Homo sapiens: one gene and its partners. The protein of the gene in region 3 purifies or fractionates together with the protein of the main gene of each other region. This does not show direct contact. Each region holds a gene or a part of one and is shown on either strand. Other genes may lie near its edges.

Region 1 (3,500 bases), on a different chromosome or scaffold from region 3:
CACAACAATATAATTGAGACAGATTTTACTTCCAGGTGGGTTAAAAAGTTAAATATTTAAAAAGTAATCCTATTTTAAAAAGAGCGCCCGGCCAGCCGCCCCGTCCGGGAGGGAGGCGGGGGGCAGCCCCCACCCGGCCGCCGCCCCGTCTGGGAGGTGGGGGGCGCCTCTGCCCAGCCACCCTGTCTGGGAAGTGAGGAGCCCCTCTGCCCGGCCGCCACCCTGTCTGGGAGGTGTACCCAACAGCTCATTGAGAACGGGCCATGATGAGGATGGCGGTTTTGTCGAATAGAAAAGGGGGAAATGTGGGGAAAAGAAAGAGAGATCAGATTGTTACTGTGTCTGTGTAGAAAGAAGTAGACATAGGAGACTGCATTTTGTTCTGTACTAAGAAAAATTCTTCTGCCTTGGGATGCTGTTAATCTATGACTTTACCCCCAACCCCGTGCTCTCTGAAACATGTGCTGTGTCCACTCAGGGTTAAATGGATTAAGGGCAGTGCAAGATGTGCTTTGTTAAACAGATGCCTGAAGGCAGCATACTCCTTAAGAGTCATCACCACTCCCTAATCTCAAGTACCCAGGGACACAAACACTGCGGAAGGCCGCAGGGTCCTCTGCCTAGGAAAACCAGAGACCCTTGTTCACATGTTTATCTGCTGACCTTCCCTCCACTATTGTCCTATGACCCTGCCAAATCCCCCCCTCGGAGAAACACCCAAGAATGATCAATAAATACTAAAAAAAAAAAAAAAAAAGAGGCAGGGCACGGTGGCTCACGCCTGTAATCCCAGCCCTTTGGGAGGCCGAGACAGGCAGATCACTTGAGGTCAGGTGTTCGAGACCAGCCTGGTTAACATGGCAAAACCTTGTCTCTACTAAAAAATACAAAAATTAGCCAGGCATGGTGGCCCATGCCTGTAATCCCAGCTACTTGGGAGGTTGAGGCACAAGAACCGCTTGAACTGGAAGGTGGAGGTTGCAGTGAGCCGAGAACGTGCTACTGCACTCCAGTGTGGGTGGACAGAGTGAGAGTCTGTTTCAAAAAAAAAAAAAAAAAGAATATGAGTGAACATTTCCTGAGTCTTAAGATAAACAAGGATTTTCTAACCAAAAAATAAAAGATATTATAAAAAAGGAAAAATTGTTAGATTTGATCACAAATATTAAATATATCTGCATGGAAAAACTATTACAAAAATTACAAGGCAAATTTCAAACTGGAAAAACACTTTTACAACTGTGACAAAGGATTGATATCTGTTACTGAGAAAAACATTTACATTTATTTATAAGAACAAGACCAGGGCCAGGCTCGGTGGCTCATGCCTATAATCCCAGCATTTTGGGAGGCCGAGGCAGGTGGATCATGAAGTCAGGAGATCGAGACCATCCTGGCTAATACAGTGAAACCCCGTCTCTTCTAAAAATGCAAAAAATTAGCCGGGAGTGGTGGTGGGCGCCTGTAGTCCCAGCTACTCCAGAGGCTGAGGCAGGAGAATGGCGTGAACCTGGGAGGCAGAGCTTGCAGTGAGCTGAGATCGCGCCACTGCACTCCAGCCTGGGTGACAGAGTGAGACTCCATCTCAAAAAAAAAAAAAAAAAAAAAAAAAGGACAAGACCAACACTTCAAATGAAAATTGGACAAAGTTCACAGACAATTCAGACAATTCACAAAGTAATATGGAAGACAACTATATTTTATAAGTTCAACGTCACTAGTAAGAAATAAACAAATTAAAATAAGTCTGTTCTGGCTGAGTGCCCCATGGCTCACGCCTATAATCCCAGCACTTTGGACTTTGGGAGGCCAAGGCGTGAGGATCGCTTGAGCTCAGGAGTTTGAGACCAGCCTAGACAGCACAGCGAGATCCCAACTCTACAAAAAATGAATAAATTGGCTGGGTGTGGTGGTGCAATGTACCTGTAGTCCCAGCTACTCCAGAGGCTGAGGTGGGAGGATTGCTTGAGCCCAGGAGTTTGAGGCTGCAGTGAGCTATGATGGCATCACTGTACTCCAGCCTGGGCAACAGAGCAAGACCCTATCTAAAACACTTTTTTTTCCTATCAAATTAATTTTAATTAGTTTTACTGGCAGTTTGGTGAATTACTGATCCTCATATTTCTGGTGGGAGTCTAATTTGGAATAACTGTCCTAAAAAAGAAAGATAGATACATAGATTTAGGAATATATATAAGCCTGAAAAAAAAAAAAAATATATATATATATTTTGAGACAAGGCCTCACTCAGTTGCCCAGACTGGAGTTCAGTGGTGCAATCTCAGCTTACTGCAGCCTCGACCACCTGGGCTCAAGTGATCCTCCCACCTCAGCCTCCCAGGTAACTGGGACTACAGGCATGCACCACCATGTCCGGCTAATTTTTGTATTTTTTTTTAGAGATGGGGCTCACCATGTTGCCCAGGCTGATCTTGAACTCCTGGAGTCAAGTGATTTGTCCACCTTGGCCTCCCAAAGTGCTGGGATTACAGGTGTGAGCTGCTGCGCCCAGCCTATTATCTATATTTTTTGAGGCACTAATTTATGCTTAGGCTATTCTAAGAAAAAAACTAGAAATACAAAGATTTATGGCCAAAAATGTTCAGTTCATTGCAACATTATGTATAACAGCATAAAAACAGAAACAACCTAAATGTCCAACCTGTACTATAGATTATGATGTAGTCATTGAAGTTATTTTTGAAGACTATATAATGACATAAGAAAATGCTCATCGTATCATATTAAGCAAAAAAGAACCCCATTTATTAAATTATATTTACACAATCCTCAGTTTTGTAAGCATGAATTCTATGTCTTCATCTAAGTCACTGAGAGAAATGTGAACAGATGGGGTTTGGAACGGATGGAAGGTTCAGCAAAGTCAGCCTCCCTTTTCTGGGTTGAGGCTAGCCCTCTTCCATTCCTCCATTAACTGAACCTTCATCTGGCAATGGTTCCCAAATGTTTCCTAGGGGAGGGCACATAAGAATTACTGTGAGAGATGGTTTAGAAAAACAAAAACAGATTTTGGAGCCTGACCCACAGAGATTTCGACTCAGGAGGTCTGAGGTGGGGCCCTGGAATCCGTGTCAAAAGGCCTCCAAGTGATTCTGATGCACAGCCACGTGCAGAAGGAACCACGGCCTTCTGGTTCGAGGTTTTGAAAAGGACATTGAACACCTTTTGTAAGTCAGCTTCTGAATGTGAGTTAGGGAAGATAATGTCAGGATGGAAAAAGCCTTCCCCCTCCTACATTTCTCCAAATACTCTGTTGCTGCTTGTCAGGTGGATGATGTGACAACTGGCCCAGCTGCTGGCCTGCAGCGCTTCCCTGCTCGGACTGCAGCTGCCAGCGCTCCCCTGCCCACCCCCCGCCCCACCTACTCACCTCCTGCCTACCCCCACCACCCCACCCAGCCCCGCCTACCCTGCAGCTCCTTGCCCTGCTCTTCAGGACTTTTGCTCCAAGTCTTGCCTCCTCTTTGTCTTCTGAGATG
Region 2 (3,500 bases), on a different chromosome or scaffold from region 3:
TTGAGACGGAGTCTCGCTCTGTCGCCCAGGCCGGACTGCGGACTGCAGTGGCGCAATCTCGGCTCACTGCAAGCTCCGCTTCCCGGGTTCACGCCATTCTCCTGCCTCAGCCTCCCGAGTAGCTGGGACTACAGGCGCCCGCCACCGCGCCCGGCTAATTTTTTGTATTTTTAGTAGAGACGGGGTTTCACCTTGTTAGCCAGGATGGTCTCGATCTCCTGACCTCATGATCCACCCGCCTCGGCCTCCCAAAGTGCTGGGATTACAGGCGTGAGCCACCGCGCCCGGCCTTTTAACGTAATTTTTATCAGTGGACACCTTACTGAATTATAGTACATTTCAGTTTTTTTAAAAAGCTGCTTCTGTTTTCCATGTATGCAATTATATAATCCGACAGTAATTTTTGTGGCTGTCTTTTTAGTATCTATATCTGTTCTTTAATTTTATTTTTCTAATTAATTCCAAGGCTAGGACTTCAGAACAATGTTAAGTAGTAGTGTGATTGTAGGCATTATTCCTACCACTGACGTTACAAGCAGTGCTCCTAGCTTTTCACCAGTTCTAGTGAATTTGTTTAACTAAATTGGAAATGGAAATTAAATGTCATTTTAAACTTTTCAAAATACATATAGATTCTTATATAGTTTTTCTCATTTGAGTTAAATTAAATTAGTAAGTTTCCTGGTATTTGATAAACCATGTATTCCTGGAATGAACTATTTCATTGTTATCACATACTGTTTATATAGCTTTGCATTCTACTAGCTGCAATTTTAGATTTTGACATCAATTTTCATGTCTTGCCTGGATCTTTACAAGAGCAACTTACATTGCTCCTTTAAAAAATGTACTGTTGCTCCCCTCCAGTTTATTTACATTTTCCAACTTCTTCAGTTAGATGCTTAATTTACATGTTTGTGTTCTTTTAATGGCTGCCTATAGAAGCACCTTTATAAATTCAGAGTATTGTAATTCTTTTTCCGGTTGATTAGAACCAATTGTCCTCTAGATATATGTACAGTGTGTCAGTGAATAGGATTTATGTGCACAAAACACATCATCACTACATAAAACATTCCGAGTATCACATAACTGTGTAGCCATGACCCATCCTTCTCTTCCTGGTGTTTTGGTGCGGCCACCAAAATCTGATAGGTATGCCAGTTATTGGAGTAGGTGCAGTTATAGCAAGGCATGATACTGACTTACTTCATTGTATTTCCTTCTGCTTAATCTTCTCTAGACATGCTGTGCAACTTAACGTCACTGCCACCCGGCAGCTCTTGCTTATGGCTAGTCAGATGCCAAAGCTGGAAGCCTTTATACATATCTCTACTGCCTATTCAAATTGTAACCTGAAGCACATCGATGAAGTTATCTATCCGTGCCCTGTGGAGCCAAAAAAAATCATTGATTCCCTTGAGTAAGTTGGTCTAATAAAAGGATCAAGGGGCGGGTAGAATAAGTTCCTTTGTTCTCTTTGATTCTTTGTAGCTATTAATGAGATGATGAAGTCAAACACTTTTGAAGCAAAATGTTTTGAAACGGTGCTAGCCTTAGCTACCTTGTCCCTGCTAGTTCTGGTGGGGAATATACTGCTAAAAGAGAAGGGGGATAGAAAATTCTTAAACATTTTGTGGAATTGCGTAGGATTGCATGAGGTACTTGGGAATACTATACATAGAAGTTGTTTCTCACTTCTTAATGAACTTAGCATTGTCACTGGATAAAGCAAGTATAATGTATAGTATAAAAGTTCAGAAGAAAAATGTCTGATTCAGACTGACGTGAGTTTGGCATAGCTCCACCAGTAACTACCTGTGTGACTGAGCAAATTCCTTGCCCTCTCTGAGCCCCAAGTCCTTCATTTGTAAAATGGGCCCATTTTATAGTTGTGAGGTTGAAAAAAGTTATATAAAACACTTATTGCAGTGCTAGGGAGTGTTTAACAGCACTTAATCAAATAATTCATAAAAAAGAACTAGAGGCTGGGGGTGGTGGCTCACGCCTGTAATCCCAGCACTTTGGGAGGCTGAGGCGGGTGGATCACCTGAGTCCAAGAGTTCAAGACCAGCCTAAAATACAAAAATTAGCTGGATGTGGTGGCAGGCGCCTGTAATCCCAGGTACTTGGGAGGCTGAGGCAGGAGAATCACTTGAACCTGGGGAGAATCGCTTGAACCTGGGAGGCAGAGGTTGCAATGAGCCGAGATTGTGCCGTTGCACTCCAGCCTGGGCAACAAGAGTGAAACTCCGTCTCAAAAAAAAAAAAAAAAAAAAGAACTAATGAAGAATAAGAATTGCTCCAAGATCTGGCAGAAGGTGACAGTCTCTTGACTTATTTGGCTGAGACACACTTTCTTTACTGTCCTAGGATGCAAGAGAAATAATGTCTAGGATTTTTCTCTTCTTGCCAATGAGCAGAAACCACTTTCATCTTAAAACACAGCTCAGGTCTTAGAATAAGTTTGTTTTCTGCTTCTTTATTCTTCTGCTCCATTTTACTAAGTTTACCTTGTTTTTTTTTTTTGTAAAAAACTATATAAAAAGTATTATAGCAGAAAAATGGACTATTTCACAATGAATTTGTCACATTATAATTTTATATAATACTGTATTTATATTTAATATATACTCTTTAAAAAGTTTTAGCTAAATCAAGAGTTCATTACCTTCAGGGCAAACATTTTTATCTCCTCCAGCTCTGAGAATAGATATTTTTGTCTGTCATGTAAAAATATCCAGGACAAAGAAGAATGAAAGTCATCTAAAGGATCTGGAGGTTAAAGTTGCTAATAAATGGAGGTTTGCTAAATTGGTACAGAGAAAAATTTTAGAGTGCAGAGTTCATCAGGATAGTGGGAGAAAAAGCAGGTGTATTCTGAGGCCCAAAGTCTAGACAATAAAGTATGTTTAAAGCCTCAGAGCATTTTCAGGATGGAATTGGTTTCTGTCAGTTACCCTCTTATGGTGTTGTCTCTTGGTAAATGTGATGTTTTCATATTTGATATGTCCAGGAGAGGGGCAGACCCCTTTTGATTCCAGATTGTTTCCTGGGACTTTCTCCACTGCTGATCTCTCTAACACCTGACAGGTCATAGTGCAATTTGAGGTAGCAAAAGAGCCTGAGAGTTCATCAGAGAAAAGAAGTAAGAGGCCAGGTGTGTTGGCTTATGCCTGTAATCCCAGCACTTTGGGAGGCCGAGGTGGGTGGATCACCCGAGGTCAGGAGTTCGAGACCAGCCTGACCAACATGGTGAAACCCTGTCTCTACTAAATACAAAAAATTAGCTAGGTGTGGTGGCACATGCCTGTAATCTCAGCTACTTGGGAGGCTGAGGCAGTAGAATTGCTTGAATCCAGGAGGTGGAGGTTGCAGTGAGCTGAGATTGCACCATTGCACCCCAGCCTGGTCAACAAGAGCAAAACTTTGTCTCAAAAAAAAAAAAAAAAAAAAAAGAAAGAAAAAGAAAAGAAAAGAAGTAAGAGTTCACCCATAGT
Region 3 (5,755 bases):
CCAAGAAGCTCCTCATCTCCATCTGAGATCACCTCAGCCAGGACCTTATTGTCCATATCACTATCAGGCTTTTTGGTCAAGGCCATTCAACAAATCTCTAGGAAGTTCCAAACTTTCCCACATTTTCCTGTCTTCTTCTGAGTCCTCCAAACTGTTCCAAGCTCTGCCTGTTACCCAGTTCCAAAGTTGCTTCCACATTTTTGGGTATCTTTTCAGCAACACCCCACTCTACTGGTACCAATTTACTGTATTAGTCCATTTTCAGCTGCTGAAAAGACATACTGAAGACTGGGCAATTTACAAAAGAAAGAGGTTTAATTGGACTTACAGTTCCACATGGCTGAGGAGGCCTCACAATCATGGTGGAAGGCAAGGAGGAGCAAATCACGTCTTACATGGATGGCAGCAGGCAAAGAGAGCTTGTGCAGGCAAACTGCCTTTTTTTTTTTTTTTGAGATGGAGTCTTGCTCTGTCGCCCAGGCTGGAGTGCAGTGGCATGATCTCAGCTCACTGCAAGCTCTGCCTCCCAGGTTCATGCCATTCTGCTGCCTCAGCCTCCCCAGTAACTGGGACTACAGGTGTCAACCACCACACTTGGCTAATTTTTTGTATTTTTAGTAGAGACGGGGTTTCACCGTGTTAGCCAGGATGGTCTTGATCTCCTGACCTCATGATCCTCCCGCCTCAGCCTCCCAAAGTTCTAGGATTACAGGCATGAGCCACTGCACCCAGCCCAAACTCCCATTTTTAAAACCATCAAATCTCTTGAGATTCATTCACTATCATGAGAACAGCACAGGAAAGACCTGCCCCCATAATTCAGTCACCTCCCACCAGGTTCCTTCCACAACACATGGGAATTGCGGGAGTTAAAATTCAAGATGAGATTTGGGTGGGGACACAGAGCCAAACTATATCACACCCACAACTTCCCACATCTTTCAATGTATTCCCATATTCTCCACCCCCTCATCCCATTAACTTCACATCCCAGCCTCAAATGGCCTCCTCCTCTTCCCTACATTCCCCCTACAGATCCACATTGGCCTCTCCCATACTCACCCTATACATTTCAAGTGCACTTCTCAGTGACCCCAGGGGCTGTGCCTCTCATGGCCTTACCCTGTCCAGCTGGGTCTTCAGAGGCCGAGATCAGGCAGAAAGGGGCCATGCTTGTGCAGTGGCCACCTTCATCCATCTGATTGTGGCCTTGAGACCCCAGGGACAGAGGAAGACAGGAGAGCACTTGGACCCATTTGAGCCTCAGATGGAGTCCAGGCTGGTCCTCAGGCCCTCATGGGGTTCCTTGGGGACTGTGTTAGGCATGAGTCAGCAATTTAACTCTCCTCTCCAAAGGTAATCATTGGTAATAGTTTGGTATATATACCTTTTTTCTTCTTTATATTCATTTACAACATATAATGTGTATCATGTAATAACTTCTGGCATAAATTATTCAATTTTATGTGTATAATTATGTTCCTAGTTTTGTTTGCATAGTGGGATCAAAAGGAACTTTAGTTTTTTACTTATAAATACATCTTTATATATTTCCTCATTAGTAATATAGATCAAATTCTTATTTTTAATAGTTATGTAGTATTTTATAGTATGAATGAACTATGCATCATTAAATTAATCCCCTATTGATTATTTAAGTTGGCTATATAAGTTTTTTCTTTTCTTTTTTTTTTTTTTTTGAGATGGAGTCTTGCTCTCTTGCCCAGCCTGGAGTGCAGTGGCATGATCCTGGCTCACTGCAAACTCCACCTCCTGGGTGCAAGCGATTCTCCTGTCTCAGCCTCCTGAGTAGCTGGGATTACAGGTGACAGCCACCACACCCAGCTAATTTTTGTAATTTTAGTAGGGACAAGGTTTTGCCATGTTGGCCAGGCTGGTCTCGAACTCCTGACCTCAGTTGATCTGCCTGCCTCGGCCTCCCAAAGTGCTGGGATTACAGGCCTGAGCCACTGCGCCTGGCCAAGTTTTTTCAATTAAATGTTATTAGAAATGACTGGCTTTTTATAAACCTTACAGCAATGGGCCAGTATTTCTGGCATCTTGCCTTTGAAGTCAGGGCTTTGGCCATTTCTGGCAGAAAAGAATGGGCAGCGCTTTTGTCTTTCCCTTGGAGGGGGCTCACTTGTTAGGAGCCATCTGGTGCCTGAGTCACAGGTGCCCTTATGACATCACAGGCCTTTCTTCCTCCACCCTTCCTGCCTATGCTATGGCTGGATGAACACAGATGTGAGGGGATTTGAACCATCTACAATCAATCCATATGTGACCAATGGTAAGAGAAAGCCAGACACACCAGGCTTGTTAGGGATGTCCCCATAGATCTCTCAGGGTGAAGGGACCCCCTGACACTGAAGACTCTAAGAAGCCCTGGAAGCTGGGGATGTGTGCCATATTGAATGGAGAGGGAGGGACCGCAGCCTCACTCTTGCCTTTCCCCTAATGCTGATTGCAGGAGGAGAAGCAGCCCCAAAAGACGAAGGAACCCTCAAAAGAAGATGAGCCTCAGCAGAAGGAGATGCCAACCCATTTGTCCTTAGGAGCAGAGTCAAAGGCAGAGGTAGGAGGAGCCCTGACTTGGATGTCATTGATCCCATGTCCTAGTGCTAGTAGCTAGTGTCTTTTGCATGGTGCTGTTATAAGTGAAGTTTCTGTGCCGCAAAAGAAATAGCACTCAAATATAAAATTTTCTTTTTAATTCTCAGCAAGGCAAGGTACTTCTATAGAAGGGTGCGCCCTTACAGATGGAGCAATGGTGAGTGCACACTTGGACAAGGGAGGGGAAGGGGTTCTTATCCCTGATGCACGTGGCCCCTGCTGCTGTGTCATTCCCCTATTGGCTAGGGTTAGACCACACAGGCTAAACTAATTCTGATTGGCTAATTTAAAGAGAGTGATGGGGTGAGTGGTTTGGTGGGAAAAATGGTTACCGCGGAGCAGGAAATCGGAATGAGTCAGGGTGGAGACTGAGCAGGTAATTGGAATGAGTCAGGGTGGAGCCGGTAATCGGAATGAGTCAGGGGGGAGTAGGTAATCAGAATGAGTCAGGGCGGAGCAGGTAATTGAAAAAGGTTGCTTTACAAGGAAGTTAAGTTTAAAAGTAGAAGGCAAAGAATTGAACATATTGACATACTGATTCTTTGAAGAGAAATTTAGAACTCATACCTAACAACTTCTCCTCTTGCATTTCCTTACAGCTCTTTCTCTTTAAACTTCTTTAACATGTCTTGGCTTAGATGTTCTGCTTGATTTTCCAAAAGAAGAAGCTTCTCTGGATAAGGTGGAGAATAGTTAAGGGAGGTTTTAGTAAGTGCTGTTTTTATGAGCCTCTTTGCACCAACCCACGGACGCATGGTGTGACACAGCACCCAACAAGAATAAATACACCCATTGCGGCTGCCAGGGAAGTGAGAATTGAGGCTATAATTCTTTTCCATTTACTGAACCACTTTTCTAGCCATCCTGTAAAGGGCTCATTTAACCCTGAGTTGTTGGCTAACTCATTGGACAGGGCAGTCAGACCTTGCAATGCCTTTGTTATACTTCCATCAGGGGCAGTGTTGTTTGGGATGAAGGTACAACATTGAGTTTTAATCATGAGGCAAACTCCTCCTCTTTCTGCTATTATCATGTCTAAGCCTATCCTATTTTCCCAAGCCATCCGGCTAGTAGCCCCTAATTGCTCAGCTATTCCTTTAACACCATCTCTAGTGTAGTTAATAAATCGCTGTTGGTTGTAGCATATGTAGTTTATTCAATCTATATTTTTATTAATTGTCTCTCAACAAAATATTGACTCAAATCCTGCAGCTATTTGATTTTAGGCTTTAAATTGATCTGGTATTCCCTGCTAGACTCCAATTGCATTTAAATAGATGTGAGAGTCAAAAGACCCATAAGGGGCTTCTCTCACTTTACGATGTCTTATTTTTCCTTCCTCTGGTTGATGAAATGCCAGGGTGAAAGGGATAGCCAATTGGACTAAAACACAAGTGCCACTTCAGATATTCATCAGAGCGTCCAGTAAAGGTCCACCACAATACCACCACACATCCCCTCGGGGATGAACAAGGGCTGACTGATTGATAAGCTCTTGAAAATTCTTAAGCTCACTGCATCCGTTCAGGTCTCCAAGGAATGCTAAGTTTCCTCCCTGTCGTGAGAGACATGAAGTGAACTTAGTATTGGGAGATGGAAGCTGGATGACCCTCGGGGGCCGACCCACAGGGTGCCAGACTTCAGAATATAGCAGAGAGAAAGAGCATGGCACGACTTGTTACTCCAGGCTGTAGAATCCTGGAAAAGAGCTACCATGCAGCCCACAACCAGTCAACTGGAGGACCACCCTAGTGGAAAGGGGACATTCTGGGCCCCTGGCCTGCTGGGTGCACAAGCATAACAATTGCTTTTGTTTAATGTGCGGACGGAATATTTGATCCATTCCAACCAGACATTTGCATCTTGGTATCCTGTCTTAATTGCCAAAGTTTGTTTTAAGTCTTTCGCTTCTACGATAGCTATCTTGGTCTTGTTGTTAGATGGAGGAGGAGCAATTGTTCCATGTGAGAGGTTTTGGAAGAAGGCTTAGAGGAAGGTGCAGGCGGTGGGGGTTCAAAGAAATGCATTTCAAAGAATCCAATAGGGTCTGTCCCTGAAACCTCAGCCCCCATACCATAACACTGGCTTAAAGAAGGGAACTGGCTTAGAAAAGGGAAAGAACTTTGAGGATTCAAGGTAATAACCTGTATAGGATTGCACTGGTTTAGCTGACAGTTAGTGGGAGGCGGGGGCTGTCCCTCTAGTAAGATGAATGTATGGTTTTAGGAAATTACAAAAACCGGTTGGGGCAGTCCATCCTTGCTCTTTAGTGGTCCACAGAACCCTGGACCAACTATGGTATAAAAGCTCTACATCGCGGGGCAAGACTCCTGGTTGACACTGGGGTCTTTATCAAAATCTCCCAGGATTAAATGGTCCCAATTCACTAATACCCAGTCTGAGGAGAGTCAGGAGGGACAGAGGTACTTTTCTGAAGTAGAGAGCTGTCTTTGACTTGGCAAGTCCCCACAGGGTATAACAAGGCAAGCATCAAATGCAATAGTTTGAAGTGAAATTGACTTGGTTATGTTAATAACTAGATGGTCAGCAATAGAGCGAGGAAAGAAGAAAGAGTAATAGAATAGATGAAAGAGAGTTAAATTCTTCTTAGCTTTAGTTTGATAGGGTTTTCCCCTGGGACTATGGCCCGTGACTCTGGAAGGGGTGGCGCTTTCTTGACTCAGGTGTGGTGAGTCCATCCCCTTTCCGCTGTACAACAGCAGTCTCGGTGGTTAGCAGCACAGGGTAGAGTCCTTGCCAGGCTGGCTGCAGTTTTCCTTCTTTCCACCCTTTGATGAGAATGTGATCTTCAGGCTGGTGCTGGTTTACCGGAAATTCTAGGGGTGGTACCTGTGCTAAAAGACTTTTAGTTTTGAGGGAAAGGAAAGTGGAAGATAAACCGAGTATATGATTTCTAAGAAACTGACCTTTTGTTTTAAATGTGGGGACATCAGCAGTGGACTTTATTGTCCTTGGTGCCTTCTTACTGAGAAATTTCCTTTAGCACCTATTTTTATTAGTTTTTAGACCAAAGAAAGCCAAACACCATTTTATATTTGACAAGCTTCCTGTATGATTTTTATACCAGATAAGCTAAATTTCACCTTTATATTAAGTGTGTTATTAATGTTAAACTTAA
Region 4 (3,500 bases), on a different chromosome or scaffold from region 3:
ACTGATGATTTCCATGAATTTTCTAGATTATCTGGTATATTATTTACCTCATAAGTAAAAGAATCAAGTCAGAAAAATAGCAGCATGCTTAGTATACTGGCTATTAAGAAAATCATGCAAAAAGAAGTAGAGTTGGGCAATTTAGTGAATAAGATAATGGCCAGCCTAAATAATTACTGCAAACAATTTTATTTACTTAAAAAAACCTCAAGGCTTCTGTTTGTTTAAAAATATCTGGCTGGTAGTTTCAGAGTCCCCTTTCCTTTAGACTACATTGGCATGTCTGAACCAAGCCAACATGCAGTTACTTGGATGTAGCCCCTTGGAAAGTGAAGAACAGCTCAATTATGATTTAATGTAATAGTATATTCAGACTTATTTGACCAAGTAAAGGATTTTTCTTGACATATGGTCTGCATAAAATATGTATACAAATTGAATACCTCACTGGGATGTGCCAACTCTAAGGATGTCATTGGCTTGTTACTTTAAGGTTGGAATATGGTATGTAATATGGTATGTTGACATTGCACTGTCAAGTTTGTCTGAGTAGCTCCTTAATGCATTTCCTTAAAAGTGAACGTTTATTGAGCTCTTCCTGGGTGATAGCACTACTCTCACTGCTTCTCTTAGGAGATCACCCTTTAGCTTCACAGTAACTGGGTGAAGTACGTACCAGTATTTCCTTCATTTTATAGATGAGAAAACTGAGATATAGAAAGGTTAAATTATGGGCCGGGCGTGGTGGCTCATGCCTGTAATCCCAGCACTTTGGGAGGCTGAGGCAGGCGGGTCACCTGAGGTCAGGAGTTCGAGACCAGACTGGCCAACATGGTGAAACCCCATCTCTACTAAAAATACAAAAATTAGCCAGGTATGGTGGCATACGCCTGTAATCACAGCTACTTGGGAGGCTGAGGCAGGAGAATCGCTTGAACCTGGGAGATGGAGGTTGCAGTGAGCCTGGATCGTACCACTGCACTTTAGCTTGGGCGACAAAGTGAGATTAAAAAAAAAAAAAAAGGTTAAATTATTTCTCCAAGGTCACAAGACCTTGGTAGAAGCATATTTCTATCCAGGCAGATTCTAAAGCTTGTTTTCTTTTCTTTTTGAGACGGAGTCTGACTCTGTCGCCCAGGCTGGAGTGCAGTGGCGCAATCTCGGCTCACTGCAAGCTCCGCCTTCCGGGTTCACGCCATTCTCCTGCCTCAGCCTCCCGAATAGCTGGGACTACAGGCACCCGCCACCACGCCTGGCTAATTTTTTGTATTTTTGGTAGAGACGGGGTTTCACCGTGTTAGCCAGGATGGTCTCGATTTCCTGACCTCGTGATCCGCCCGCATAGGCCTCCCAAAGTGCTGGGATTACAGGCGTGAGCCACTGTGCCCGGCCAGTTTTCTTACCTGCTACACTAGAATGCAGTTATTGAAAATTAGTTTTTAGTTGTTGGTCTTATCAGCTTTTATACTATCACTTTTTCCTACTCATATTAAAAATCTCCACAGGTAAATATGCTTATTAAGTTTGTAAAATAATAATTAGTGCTGAATGCACACTTGGGTATAGTTATGCCAGTATGTACTTTCCATTTTAAGGGGAAATAAAAAAAGTTTGTTTGATTTGTTGGGCTGGTAAGGCTGAACTCTGGTGTACCTTTGATTTAGTGTCTTTAAGTATGGCGGGGGAATAAACTATGAGTCTATAGTATTTATAACCATTATAATTTTAGGTTAGAATAAAAGATCATTAGGATCTACATTTAAAAACAAGTAAACCATGAATTTGAATTTATTTTATTGAATTATAAAGTATATGAATATCTTTTAATATGTCTTTGATATCTGTGATTATATGACAGGGACAAAATATAGGATTAAAACTTTGGTTGGTTTCATTTCAGATAATCTTGCCATAGGTTTGTGCAGTCTCAGCAGAAGGAAATCAGGGTTGTTATTACTGTTTTACTGATCTCTTCCAAGTTTCACTTCTTGCAAGATGTTGGGGTTGGAAAGAGGATCTCTAAGTAATGGAATCTTTCTGGCTAAAAATAGGAGCCTACATTGGCTGCTGCTTTAGCGTTTTTATTTTGTGGATACCCTTAACCAGTTGAATAGTCTTCACTTTTAACTTTTGTGAATTTTCACACAAATTTTAAAAATTCTCTAAGTTAGGACCATGGAAACTTTGTGCTATCAATATTACATAATTTGTGAATAGTTTACTATCAGTCTCAGATTCTAAGTCAAACACAGTGCTTCTGGTCGAACAAATCTAGAAATCTTCTGTATCTCACAATTGTATCTTCTTTTGTATCTTACAATTGTATCTTCATATATATTTTTAATAATGGGTTATGTAACTTGGACAAATACATTTATGGCTGGGACCTTTTAAAATTCAGTAAAAATTGGGAGGCCGAAGCAAGCAAATCATTTGAGACCAGGAGTTTGAGACCAGCCTGGCCAACACAGTGAAACCCCATCTCTTCTAAAAAAATAGCAAAAATTAGCCAGGTGTGGTGGTGCATGCCTGTAATCCCAGCTACCCAGGAGGAGGCTGAGGCATGAGAATTGCTTGAACCTGGGAAGTGGAGGTTGCAGTGAGCCGTGATTGTGCCACTGCACTCCAACCTGGGCGACAGCTTACTCTGTCTCCAAATAAATAAATAAATATCAATGAGTAAATTGTTTTTGGTCCTTACATGGCTCCCAGCTTTTTCAACTCATCTCTTGCCTTGGTTTCAGTCATTTAATTCCCATTGGCTGGGCAGTCTGAGAGCTTTTCCTGAGTTTACCTGAATTAAACTGATAGCCTTTCTCCTTGATTCTCCAGGTAATTATTGCTCCCAGATTTCCAGTAGCAAGTTCTTTAGGAGACTAGTTTGGATCCCTCATTATTCTGTGTTGGAACTCCCTGATTCTGCTGCTCCCTTTGAAGACCACCCAATGCTTGTTGCCTAACTCTTTACAGATTGTGCACTACTTGCCTGATTGGATTTCTTTCTAGTCATGGAAGCTGGCCTTCTTTTTCCTGAGAGAGTATCTAGTTATGGTCCTCGCCCCTTCCTGTTAGCTCCTTCTAAGGCTGTTAACAGATTTTATTTGCAGACAGATTTTATTTTGTACAGATTTTATTTTGGCTGTCGTATGGAATTTTGTAAAAGCCTGTTGGCATGAACATAGTGGTGGTGGTGGGCATGACCCTTTTAAATCCATCCACAATTCTTTTTTTTATTTTTATTTTTTTTCTCTGAGACGGAGTCTTGCTTTGTCACCCAGGCTGGAATGCAGTGGCGTGATCTCGGCTCACTGCAACCTCCGCCTCCCAGGTTCAAGCAGTTCTCCTGCCTCTGCCTCCTGAGTAGCTGGGACTACAGGCGCCTGCCAGCACACCCAGCTAATTTTTGTATTTTTAGTAGATACGGAGTTTCACCATGTTGGCCAGGCTGTTCTCTCTTGACCTCATGATCCGACCACTTCAGCCTCCCAAAATGCTGGGAT

The links. The genes of interacting proteins can lie anywhere in the genome.
Region 1: the proteins of IQCF1 (region 3) and EHD4 purify together in Homo sapiens (affinity purification with mass spectrometry; one large-scale study listed by BioGRID and IntAct). This does not show direct contact.
Region 2: the proteins of IQCF1 (region 3) and FAR2 purify together in Homo sapiens (affinity purification with mass spectrometry; 2 studies listed by BioGRID and IntAct, with this or other methods). This does not show direct contact.
Region 4: the proteins of IQCF1 (region 3) and TBC1D4 purify together in Homo sapiens (affinity purification with mass spectrometry; one large-scale study listed by BioGRID and IntAct). This does not show direct contact.

Annotation. Positions count from the first base shown.
Region 1 is NC_000015.10:41,962,558-41,966,057, forward strand, and holds part of EHD4 (EH domain-containing protein 4), read right to left. Parts: exon of another isoform or gene 3,431-3,500; intron 1-3,430. UniProt on the Homo sapiens protein: ATP- and membrane-binding protein that probably controls membrane reorganization/tubulation upon ATP hydrolysis. Plays a role in early endosomal transport.
Region 2 is NC_000012.12:29,295,778-29,299,277, forward strand, and holds part of FAR2 (fatty acyl-CoA reductase 2), read left to right. Parts: intron 1-1,243; coding exon 1,244-1,423; intron 1,424-3,500. UniProt on the Homo sapiens protein: Catalyzes the reduction of saturated but not unsaturated C16 or C18 fatty acyl-CoA to fatty alcohols (FAls). A lower activity can be observed with shorter fatty acyl-CoA substrates.
Region 3 is NC_000003.12:51,899,808-51,905,562, reverse strand, and holds the start of IQCF1 (IQ domain-containing protein F1), read left to right. Parts: upstream 1-2,209; 5' UTR 2,210-2,290; coding exon 2,291-2,293; intron 2,294-2,473; coding exon 2,474-2,578; intron 2,579-2,738; exon of another isoform or gene 2,739-2,770; coding exon of another isoform or gene 2,771-2,773; intron 2,774-5,755. UniProt on the Homo sapiens protein: Involved in sperm capacitation and acrosome reaction.
Region 4 is NC_000013.11:75,472,170-75,475,669, reverse strand, and holds part of TBC1D4 (TBC1 domain family member 4), read left to right. Parts: intron 1-3,500.